3 linked regions of the Homo sapiens genome follow. The protein of the gene in region 2 purifies or fractionates together with the protein of the main gene of each other region. This does not show direct contact. Each region holds a gene or a part of one and is shown on either strand. Other genes may lie near its edges. The genes, in order: MACROH2A2, RSBN1L and KSR2.

Evidence for each region.
Region 1: the proteins of RSBN1L (region 2) and MACROH2A2 purify together in Homo sapiens (co-immunoprecipitation; one large-scale study listed by IntAct). This does not show direct contact.
Region 3: the proteins of RSBN1L (region 2) and KSR2 purify together in Homo sapiens (co-immunoprecipitation; one large-scale study listed by IntAct). This does not show direct contact.

What each region holds. Positions count from the first base shown.
Region 1 is NC_000010.11:70,108,194-70,111,845, forward strand, and holds part of MACROH2A2 (core histone macro-H2A.2), read left to right. Parts: intron 1-839; coding exon 840-1,014; intron 1,015-3,324; coding exon 3,325-3,490; 3' UTR 3,491-3,652. UniProt on the Homo sapiens protein: Variant histone H2A which replaces conventional H2A in a subset of nucleosomes where it represses transcription. Nucleosomes wrap and compact DNA into chromatin, limiting DNA accessibility to the cellular machineries which require DNA as a template.
Region 2 is NC_000007.14:77,765,863-77,769,514, forward strand, and holds part of RSBN1L (lysine-specific demethylase RSBN1L), read left to right. Parts: intron 1-2,798; coding exon 2,799-2,941; intron 2,942-3,652. UniProt on the Homo sapiens protein: Lysine-specific demethylase that specifically demethylates methylated lysine residues of proteins.
Region 3 is NC_000012.12:117,524,914-117,528,565, forward strand, and holds part of KSR2 (kinase suppressor of Ras 2), read right to left. Parts: exon of another isoform or gene 3,633-3,652; intron 2,207-3,632; coding exon 2,158-2,206; intron 794-2,157; coding exon of another isoform or gene 785-793; exon of another isoform or gene 661-784; intron 307-660; coding exon 1-306. UniProt on the Homo sapiens protein: Location-regulated scaffold connecting MEK to RAF. Has very low protein kinase activity and can phosphorylate MAP2K1 at several Ser and Thr residues with very low efficiency (in vitro).

The sequences.
Region 1 (3,652 bases), on a different chromosome or scaffold from region 2:
AAAGACTCTGTCTCAAAAAAAAACTAAAAATAAAAAAATAAAAATAAAAGCCACTGTATTCATTTCCTGTGGCTACTGTAACAAATTACCACAAAGTTCGTGGCTTCAGACAACACAAATTTGTCTTCTTACAGTTCTGGAGGCCAGAAGTCCACAATGAGTTTTAAGAGTCTAAGATCCAGGTGTTGGCAGGGCTGGTTCCTTCTGGAGGCTCAGGGAAGGATCCCTTCCTTGCCTTTTCCAGCTTCTAAGCTGCAACATTCCTTGGCTCCTGGCTGCATCGTTCCAATCTCTGTCTCCTTCATCCCACGGCCTTCTCCTGCCTTTGACCTTCTTGCCTCCCTCTTATCAGGTCCCAGGCTCACCCAGACAGTCCAGGATCATCTCCCCATCTCAAGAGCCTTCACTTAATCACATCTGCAAAGTCCTTTTTGCCATGTACGGGAACACCCACAGGTTTCAGGGAGGAGGACGTGGATGTTTTGGGATGCCATTACTTTACCTGCCACAGCCACCAGAGAGGATCTGATGTGTCCCTTTAACTAGGAACCATTGTGAGGAGGTAGCCCAACCCAGGGACTACTTGGCAGACCATATGAAAATGGCGCATCAGAGCAGCATTAAACGCTTCTACCCAAAGCTTGTGCTAACTGTGCAAAGCAATACAGCCCAGCTCTTGCTCTCGTTAAACATAGTCCACATCAGGAGCACAGGATGCTGCCCAGCCAACGTCTCTATCACTGCCTTATCTCCAGATCTAACAGGTACCTGATGAGGTTAGGCTATAACCTAGGAAACCTTAGGAAATAACCCGCGGCATTTTCTCTCCTATGTCCCAGCCGCCGTCAGCCAATCCAGTGGACTCGCAGCCAAATTTGTCATCCACTGTCACATCCCTCAGTGGGGCTCCGACAAATGTGAAGAACAGCTTGAAGAGACCATCAAAAACTGCCTGTCAGCGGCGGAGGACAAGAAGCTAAAGTCCGTCGCGTTCCCGCCTTTCCCCAGCGGCAGGTAAGATGCAGTTCCCCTGAGTTGATTCCTCCGGCTTTTTCCCTGGAAATCAGCTGCTCCCCCACTTACATCTGATCTGGGTGTTGCCAAGGGCTGCCAGCACAGCCAAGTATGCTGACCAGATGACAGGGCAGGAAACCCGGTTTTCATCCTTCAGAAACCATGGGGAAGCGAGCCCACTGGCTCCTAGGCAGCAGGTCTTCCCCGGCTGGGGCCAGCCCCAGTGCCTCCTTGATGTTAAAGCCCCAGGAGGAAGGCTAGCCCAGGGGAGGAGCGGGAGGCAGAGGCCAGCTGGTGTGTTATTTTTTGAGAGCCTTCCAGGTTCAAAGTCCATATTCCCACCAGCTGTCCATGTCCAGGACACATGATCAGAAAACGCCAGGCTCGAAGGCCTTGCTACTCAAAGTGTGGTCCATAGGCAGCAGTGACCGATGTCAGAATGCAGAATCTCAGGCCCCCCATCTCCGACCTCTGGCTCCAGAATCCCCAGAGAATTCCGTTGCTGCTCTGGGAGACTGCAGAGCCAGGAGTTCGAGGCTTTGATGAATACACCCAGAGAAGTGAAAATCTGTCCCCGAGTGATTGCTGAAAAGGAGACTGGGCAATGACTGGATTGTCACAGATCCCAGCTGGGCATTGTTTCAGATACATAATGAGGATATCTGCTGTCACATAAAACATATCCTTTCCCTTCATGCCCCTAGCCAATCTATTGCTTTAATTTTGAACACCCTCTCACCTTGAGAGCTGTCCTTTATAATATAGCTATGGTTTATAGCTGTGTCCTGGGAAGCCCAAGAGGAAAATAATGAGACCTAGGTTCCTGCTGTAATCACACATCAACCTAGGCAAGCAGCATTGAGTCTCAGCATTCCAGGCCCAGAGATGCTGTGAGATGCATTCTTTCGTCGGTGGAACCACGGCAGTGCTGTTCTGTGCTGGAATACATGCGATTGGGAAGAATTCCTATTAACAGGCCCCTCCTGGACCTGCTCCAGGGGTCTCTGTGGCTGACCCCTAACGACCATTCTGGCTGTGTCCCTGGAAGCTGGTGCTGTGGCCCAGCCTGGTGGATGGCACTATCAGTAGCTCCCTGGAACCTGGGGCCTTTAACAAACTTTCATTAACCCCGCCATGCCCGGAGTCACAATGCTGAAATTACATGGGCCTGTGCCTATGAAATATTAAGTGCATAAAAAAGGACTTACGAAGACAGGTTTGGAGCATACATTTTTGCCCTTTACTAAGCAATTGGGTTAGTATATAAACCAGTTTGGAGGGAGCTAATAAAACTTCTGTTTGCTTGTTTGAAGACCAGGTATTTTTAATGCTGAATGGCTAGCATTTTTAAAGCCAAGCTTGACTTGGTCAGGTGACATAGAATCAAATATAGGGAGCTGGCACGGTGGCTCACGCCTGTAAATCCAAAAGCTTTAGGAGGCTGAGGCAGGAGGATCATTTGAGGCCAGGAGTTCGAGACCAGCCTGGGCAACATAACAAGACCCATCTCTACAAAAAATTTAAAAAAAAAAATTTTTTTATAGGCACACGCCTTTAGTCCCAGCTACTGAGGAGGCTGAGGCAGAAGACAGATAGCTTGAGCCCAGAGGTTTGAAGCTGCAGTGAGCTATGATCACACCACTGCACTCTAGCCTGAGTGATGGAGCAAGACTTTGCCTCTGAAAAAAAAACTAATTTAAAAAAAGTATAATAAAAAATAAAATACAGGGCACTCTTCACTTGGCCAGCCCTGTGACCTTGACTAAAATCATTGTGCTTGGCAGGGCACGGTGGCTCACACCTGTAATCCCAGCACTTTGGGAGGCCGAGGCAGGCGGATCACCTGAGGTCAGGAGTTCAAGACCAGCCTAGCCAACATGGTGAAACCCCGTCTCTACTAAAAATACAAAAATTAGCCAGGCATGATGGTGCGCACTTGTAGTCCCAGCTGCTTGGGATGCTGAGGCAGGAGAATCGCTTGAACCCGGGAGGTGGAGGTTGCAGTGAGCTGAGATCGCGCCACTGCACTCCAGCCTGGGCAACAGAGAGAGACTCCATCCCAAAACAAATAAATTAATTTAATCAAATTAAATCATTGTGCCTCTCCGAGTCAGTGTGACACCTATAAAGTGGGGGCAACATGCCCCACCTGCCACCCCCAGGCTGTCCCTTTGGCTAGGGTCAAAGGAGATCATGCATGGACTAGCCCTGCACACAGCAAGGCCCCACCCAGTAAAAACAAAGGCACTTCATGCTCCCATGGGTCCCAGGGACCAAAATGACATCGGCTCTTCTTTTGCTTTGGCACAGAAACTGCTTTCCCAAACAGACTGCGGCCCAGGTGACCCTCAAAGCCATCTCAGCCCACTTTGATGACTCGAGCGCGTCCTCGCTGAAGAACGTGTACTTCCTGCTCTTCGACAGCGAGAGCATCGGCATCTACGTGCAGGAGATGGCCAAGCTCGACGCCAAGTAGCCGCCGCACTTTCCAGCAGGGATCGGAGGACGACCCGAGTCCCAAGAGTGGGGTTTTGCTTTTTAAAAGGAGAGAGGAGGGGTGATGGCAGGGGAGTGGAGGGTGGCCGGGCAGGTCCTGCCGGCGCAGGGAGCCCTCTGCCCTTCACACTCTCCTCCAAAA
Region 2 (3,652 bases):
TAATTGTAATGGCAAAGCTAAGTGGTGGGCCATGAAATAACACCTCTTAACACTTTAGGAAATTAGGTTCCATGTGTTTATCAGCTCTTTGTAAACTAAGTACTAAAGGACTTAAGAAGTACAGGAAGGATTCTACTACAAATGTTTAAGACAAAGGAATGGCAGTTTAGCATTCCTAAACTAAATTCCAGGAAAACTCGCCTGGGAAATTACACACCCATATTTTAGCCATGGCTGTACTTATCTGGGTTGGGCAAGCCCTTTAAACTTTCTGGGCTTCAGTTTCATCATCCATAAAATAACATGTTTAGACAATGTAGCCAAAGGCCCCTCTATTTAATTTATTTTTTTGAGACAGCCTCACTCTCTGCCCAGGCTGGAGTGTAGTGGTGTAATGTGGAGCCCTGACCTCCGTGGGCTTGGATGATCCTCCCACGTCAGCCTCCCAAGTACCTCGGATTACAGGCACATGCCATCATGCCCAGCTAACTTTTGTATTTTTTGTGGAAATGGGGTTTCACCATGTTGCTCAGGCTGGTCTTGAACTCTTGGACTCAAGTGATCCTCCTGTCTTGGCCTTCCAAAGTGCTGGGATTACAGGTGTGAGCCACTGTGCCCACCACCACAGGCCCCTTTAAATAGTTTGTAGCCAGATTCCTTTTTTTTTTTTTTAAAGCCTCTTGATTTTCAAAAAGTATTTCTTATTGTGAGGTGCTAGGGCTATCCCACTGAGAGAGGAATCTCTGAGCTGTGTGGTTAGGTTAATTATTTAATCAGTAACTCAAAGGTCAATGCTGCAAACCTACACTGAAATTCAGGGTCCAGGTAAGCTGTGGAATGTGACAAGATTTCTGATACCACATAATCTATAGGACATCTCTTCTTTTATTACTTCTGTTTGCTTGGTGTTTTTACCCTATATGTACATATATCTTTTTCTTCCCTTTCTCTTTAACCTTGTTCCATTCCTTTTTCTCTTTTCCTTTTAAACTTTTTGTTCCTTTTCTACTTCTCTCTAGTAGTTACATCATGGAATTAGGTTGCATTTATTATTGGACTATATTTAAAAATTACCAAATATTACTTAAATGGTTGCTTCAAGTTTAATTTTCAAAGCACATGAACTAAATGCATTATTTCTCCTTTCCTTTCCTTCCCCTTCCCCTTCCCTTTCCCCTTCCCTTCCCCTTCCCCTTCCCTTTCCCCTTCCCTTCCCCTTCCCCTTCCCTTTCCCTTTCCCTTCCTTTCTTTCGATGGGGTCCTGCTATGTTGCCCAGGCTAGCTTTGAAGTCCTGGGCTCAAGCAGTCCTCCTGCTTCAGCCTCCCAAAGTGCTGTGATTACAGACGTGAGCCACCCACACCCAACCTAAATGCATTGTTTCTAAAGAAATTTGACAAGCCTTTTTGAAAAGGGGGTGTGTGGTGAAATTTTTTTTTTTTTTAATTTTGTTCTCAACATTCCATGGACAGTGGCCCTCAGTTTCCTTCTTCCCTCTCTCTGTCTTTTTTTGTTTGTTTGTTTTTGGTTTCAGATGGAGTCTCGCTGTGTCATCCAGGCTGGAGGGCAGTGGTGCGATCTCGGCTCACTGCAACCTCTGCCTCTCAGGTTCAAGCAATTCTCATGCCTCAGCCTTTCGAGTAGCTGGGATTACAGACACACACTACCATGCTAGGCTAATTTTTTGTATCTTTAGTAGAGATGAGGTTTCTCCATGTTGCCCAGTCTGGTCTCAAACTCCTGAGCTCAGGTGATCTGCCTGCCTCAGCCTCCTGAAGTGTTGGGATTACAGGCCTGAGCCACCGTGCCCGGCCACCGTCTTCTCTTTTCTCTTCCCCTTCCCCTTCACCTCTGTCTCTCGCCTCGCCTCCCCTCCCCTCCCCTCCCCCCTTTTTCCCTCCCCCTTCCCCTCCTCTCCCCCCTCCCCCTTCTCCCTCCCCCTTCCCTTCCTCTGCCCCCTCCCCCCTTCTCCCTCCCCCCTTCTCCCTCCCCCCTCCCTCTCCTTTCATTCTTTGGAGTCTCGTTCTGTCACCAGGCTGGAGTGCAGTGGCGTGATTTCGGCTCACTGCAACCTCCGCCTCCGAGGTTCAAGCGATTCTCCTGCCTCAACCTCCTGAGTAGCTGGGACTACAGGTGCGCGCCACCATGCCCAGCTAATTTTTGTATTTTGTAGAGACGGGGTTTCACCGTGCTGGCCAGGACGGTCTCGATATCTTGATATCTTGACCTTGTGATCCGCCCGCCTCGGCCTCCCAAAGTGCTCGGATTACAGGCGTGAGCCACTGCGCGCCCAGCCTTGTTCTTTCATTTTAAAATACTTTAGTCTCTGGTTTAAGCCAACAACCTCTTCAAGAAACTGCTGAACAGAAATATGTTTTGATTTTGTTTTGTTTTGTTTTTAATTATCATTAATCAAAGAGGTATCCAGTTTTTAAACTTAAATTTAATTGTTCATTTTTATAGATTCTTATGAGAGCACTTGCTTATTTAGTCCGTTAACATCATATGATCTATATGGTAGAAGGAAGAATAACAAATGATGAATATAGTGAATCATACCTCTAGCAGGGTATAGGGACAGAACCATCCAAGCATAATTATTTTCTTGGTGTGTTTGAAACAGTTTTTTGAAGCAAAGTATATCAATATATAGGGATATATTCAATATTATGTATTTCAGATGCTTAAGTATAAAGCTGTGTATGAAAGTGTGTTTGTCAGGGGAACAATATTATTATTAACATACACTTGAAGATACATTTTGAAAATAATTGCAATCTGCATAATTATTTATCTCCAGTGTACACTGCCATGGGGGACGCTATCTAGTCTAAAATTACAGAGTCGAAAAGATAGTGATGATGGTCCCATCATGTGGGTTCGTCCAGGAGAACAAATGATCCCTGTGGCTGATATGCCAAAGTCACCTTTCAAAAGGAAAAGGTATGTTGTATACACATTTTTATTGGAGGGGATGAGTGTTTGTATGTTGGGGTGTGTATGTTAGTTGAAAATTGGAGGAAGGAGGAATGCAAAGTTTAGAGCATAATTGGAATATAAATTTAAAAATAGCGATACATGCTAATACAATTTGTTATAAAACCTAAAATGTAAATAAAGCATGAGAAATGTAGGCAAATGACAAGAAATTGTAATGATGGATGGAAAAAATGTCATAAGATATAAACTATTTTAGAATAAATGTAATATTCAGAACCTATACTAAGAAGACTAAAATGTTTTGTGGAGGATATAAAGTAAGATCAGAACAAATGGAAAGCCCTGCTGTGTTCTGGATTGGATAAAAATGATAGTTCTTTAAAATTTTCTGCATTTCAATTGGACTAACACTTCCAGTCCTGGATAAAATTATTTTAAAATTCATAAGGAAGTAAACTTTTCAGTGAAAGAGAAGATTAGTGAGAGGCAGCTTATGATACAGGATATTAAAAATTACTATAAAGTTCAAATAGATCATTGGAATAAGAGTCCAGAAATAGATCTAAGTATATTGGGAACTTAATATATGAGATAGGTGGGAAGAGGAAGATGTATTTAATGAATAATGCTGGCATATTTGGCTCTCATAAAAACAAAGGCAGAGCCCCTACCTCATACAAGAAGTAAATTAGAGAATTAAGCATCACAGATAAA
Region 3 (3,652 bases), on a different chromosome or scaffold from region 2:
ATGCCGTGTCTGCCTGTAGGCCATCACCTCCCGCTTGAAGGCCTTGAGCTGGTCCTCGTTGTCCCTCTCAATGTCAATCAGCCGGATGGCCACCTCGCCATGCCAGCGGCCGTGGTACACTTGCCCAAAGCGGCCCTTTCCAATGAGCTCGCCGATCTCCAGCTGCTCAAAGGGGATGTCCCACTCCTGAAGGAAGATGCTGGTCTGGCTGGCCTTGCGTGGGAAGCTCCGGGCCGAGAGGAGGGACAGGTTCATCTCCTCGAAGTCATCCTCTGACTCTTCGGCCTCATCATGGACCTCTTCATTCTGTGGCCGGAGTGGGAGAGAGGTCAGAATTGTGTCTGCCACTGCCCCAGCCTCCCTCATGGTCCTGCTGGGTCCCGTGCACATGCGTAGGTCTGGGCACATCTCTACATGCATTTGGAGCTTGTGCAGACATACGTCCCTCTGTTTCCCCAGCTCTAGAATCTGGTCTAGAATCATACTACAGTGAAGGTGCTGAAAGGGAGATCATGATCATCCACCTCTCTTGTGCTAAATGGGGGGATACTGAGGCTCAGAGAGAAGTGTTATAGGGATCGCCCATTCTAGTTTGCTGGAATCTTCCTGGTTTTAGCACCGAAAGTCCCATATGTTGCCCTGGGAAGTGACTCACTCCAGGTCATGCAGCCAGGCAGAAGAGGGACTAAGATCCAGGTCTCTGGACTTGAATATCCGATGGCCTTCCTATTCTTCCATAGTCTTTTGGTTTGGCTGTTTACGTGCATGTGATAAAGTTGACAGGCTAGACAGGCTAAAACAATGGGTACATCGTGCATCTGCATGTAACACATGACAACTGCCAACATGGAGTATCTTTTGCTTCCCCCAGGGAATTTGGAATTGATGATTCAAAAACTGGGAGAGGTCAGAGCTACAAGCTAGCTGTCTGAGGCTCCTACAGCAGCTGGGAGGGTAGGAGACATGAGAGTGAGGGGTTAACAGAATGGGCTTAACAATCAGACAAAGAGAGCTGAAATCTGGCCTCTGTATGACCTTGAGCCAGTTGCTTTACTTCCCTGAGGCTGCCTTTCCTCATTGTAAAGTGGGGGTAATAAAATCTGCCCCAGGGCCGGTGTGAGGTTTTAGATGAAGGCCTGTTAAGTTCTTTGTACAGACCTGACCATCTGTATTAAACACCGACTGGGAGGCCCGAGAAAATGCAGATTCCTGGGCCCCACCCAGCACTATTGGATCAAAATATCCGCAGGCCAGGACCAGGAATCTGCATTTTTATCATGCACACACACGACTCAGGCGTACTTCGGCGTAACTACCACTAGAGTTAAATGCTCAAGGTGTAGGGACCCACCTTATCAGCATGATATCTAGGGGTGCTTGGGGGCGAATTGCCTCTTGGATTCTCCTGCAGAATTGTGGGAGCAGCAGGTGGCCAGGGCCAGCGGGGATTCCCAGAGACCCTGGGACCTGATGAAACAGCCTGAGAAGGTGGCTTCTTGACTGGGTACAGCTCTTCCTGACCCAAAATACCTGGGCAAGCTGCCCCTGATGGCACATTCAGGAGAAACAATACAGGGGACATTGATTTCTCCCGGGATCATTTTTCAACAACCAAAATAGTCCCAGAAAAGAACACGATTTTCCTTGGAAGCCCTGACTCAATTCCTTTCAGTATGAGACCCAGAGCAGTTGCAGAGCTGAGGGGCCAGGACTCCATGGTTTCCAGCCAGGGCATTTCATGTATTTCTGCAGCCACTTAGGCAGGTGGGAAGAAGCCCCAGAGCATTCTCAACACTTCTAAGCCCAGCATCCCTGAGGCCCCCACCTCTTCCCACATATTCTTTTGAAGGCAGCGGGGCACATCCCCCTTGGTATTCACCCGGCCCTGAGCTGATCTTTCCACTAAGAATGCAAATCTCTTGACAATTTCCACACAACTGGCTTTTCCATGATGCATGCCATATAATGGCCCATTAGACTCAGTGCTGGGAGGGACCACTGCTTGCTAATTGTCCCAGAGTTAGAATATCCATCAGTCAGGGCCACCACAGCCCCCACCTGACCCCAAGCCCTCTGCGTCATCCAAAACGTCAGTCGGCTTTGCCAAGTTCTGGGCAGTCCCTGGAAAATGTCGCTTCACTGCTCTCTGATTCTCACCTCCGACGTTGGCTCCACTTCAATTTGAAGTAATGGATTTCCTTCCAAGCTGTAAAGAAAGAAAAATAAACGTGATCCCTAGGTGAAAAGGCAGGTCTATATATTGAGTTTAGCTATGTACGAAGAATCCCCAGATCGGAGGTCTTTACCACCAAGTCTTTATCTCACATTTCATTTCAACAGGTGTGTCTGAAATAATCCATAACCTCGACACACACACACACACACACAGACACACACACACACACACACACAGACACACACACACACACACACAGACACACACACACACACACAACACAGTGCGCAAGGACCTTGTTTTAAGTTGATTTTCCGGGCTGCTCAGGGCTCATTTTTCTTCATTGCTTTGGTTTCAACTTATCTAGCAGCTTTCTTATAAATTGGCCTAAATGCCCTGGGTAGATAAGTCCTCAGAGCTGTATATGTTTGCCAGGAAAGAATTAATCAGATCTCCGAAGTTCACACAAATTTGGAATTTCTTGGAAGGATCTCAGTGTTCTTGTTTGTCTGTTCATTCATGCATTCATGCGACTATTTAATAGATGTGTGTGCCAGGAACAGTGTTAGGCCCTTGGAGGGATATAGAATTGAAACTGGCACGGCTTCTGACCTTCAGGAATATTGTGTTCCTACTGAAGGAACTAAAGCCAGTATGTAGATACTATGCAGGGAGGCTAAAAGTAATAAGGCCAAAAGTTAGGTGTGAATTGGATAAATGGAGTGTCGTGGGAATTCCAAGATGAGAGAATTACTGGGTGTATTTGAAAGTTCCCAGTGTTTGAGGTAGGTCTTGCCAATCACATGGAATTAGGATGTGTGGAATGAAAATAAAAAGACCATATTGAGCTGGAAGACACAAGTGTGTGTGTGTGTGTGTGTGTGTGTGTGTGTGTGTGTGTGTGTGTGATGCATTCATAAGCTCATGAGCTGCAGTTCTGTTCTTAGTAAGCAAACATGTTGGGTATAGATGCTGGCGGGGCGTCACAATTTGTGTGAGCACTGCATAGGTATTATGGGATGTGCTTTGTGCAGGGTTGTCTTGTGTGCATGTGAGTTGGGTGTACACACAGGATGTTGAGGGGGATGCTGTATGCCGATAGTATAATTGGGTGTGCATTAGAGGTGTGAGGGGACTGTCAAATGCATGTGACATTTGACATGTGATGGATGTTGGGTACAGTGTGCATTAGAGGTATGTTGCAGGGTTTAGACTTGAGGATGTGCATGTGTTTTTGAAGTGCAGCAGGGAGACAGAACTGGGCTATTGAAGGCATGGAAGAGCTGAGACAGGTGAGAAAAAAGAATCACAATGAATACCCCACCCCTCCTTTCCTATTTCCCCAGTAGATTCCCCCTTCCCCATCCTCATTTGGGGGACCTCCCCTATCCTGACCCTCAGATTGCAGGAAGTGGCTGACTCCACAGAGTCAATCCACTTGCTGGAGGGGGTCCTGGTGAAAGAGTCTGAAAGACC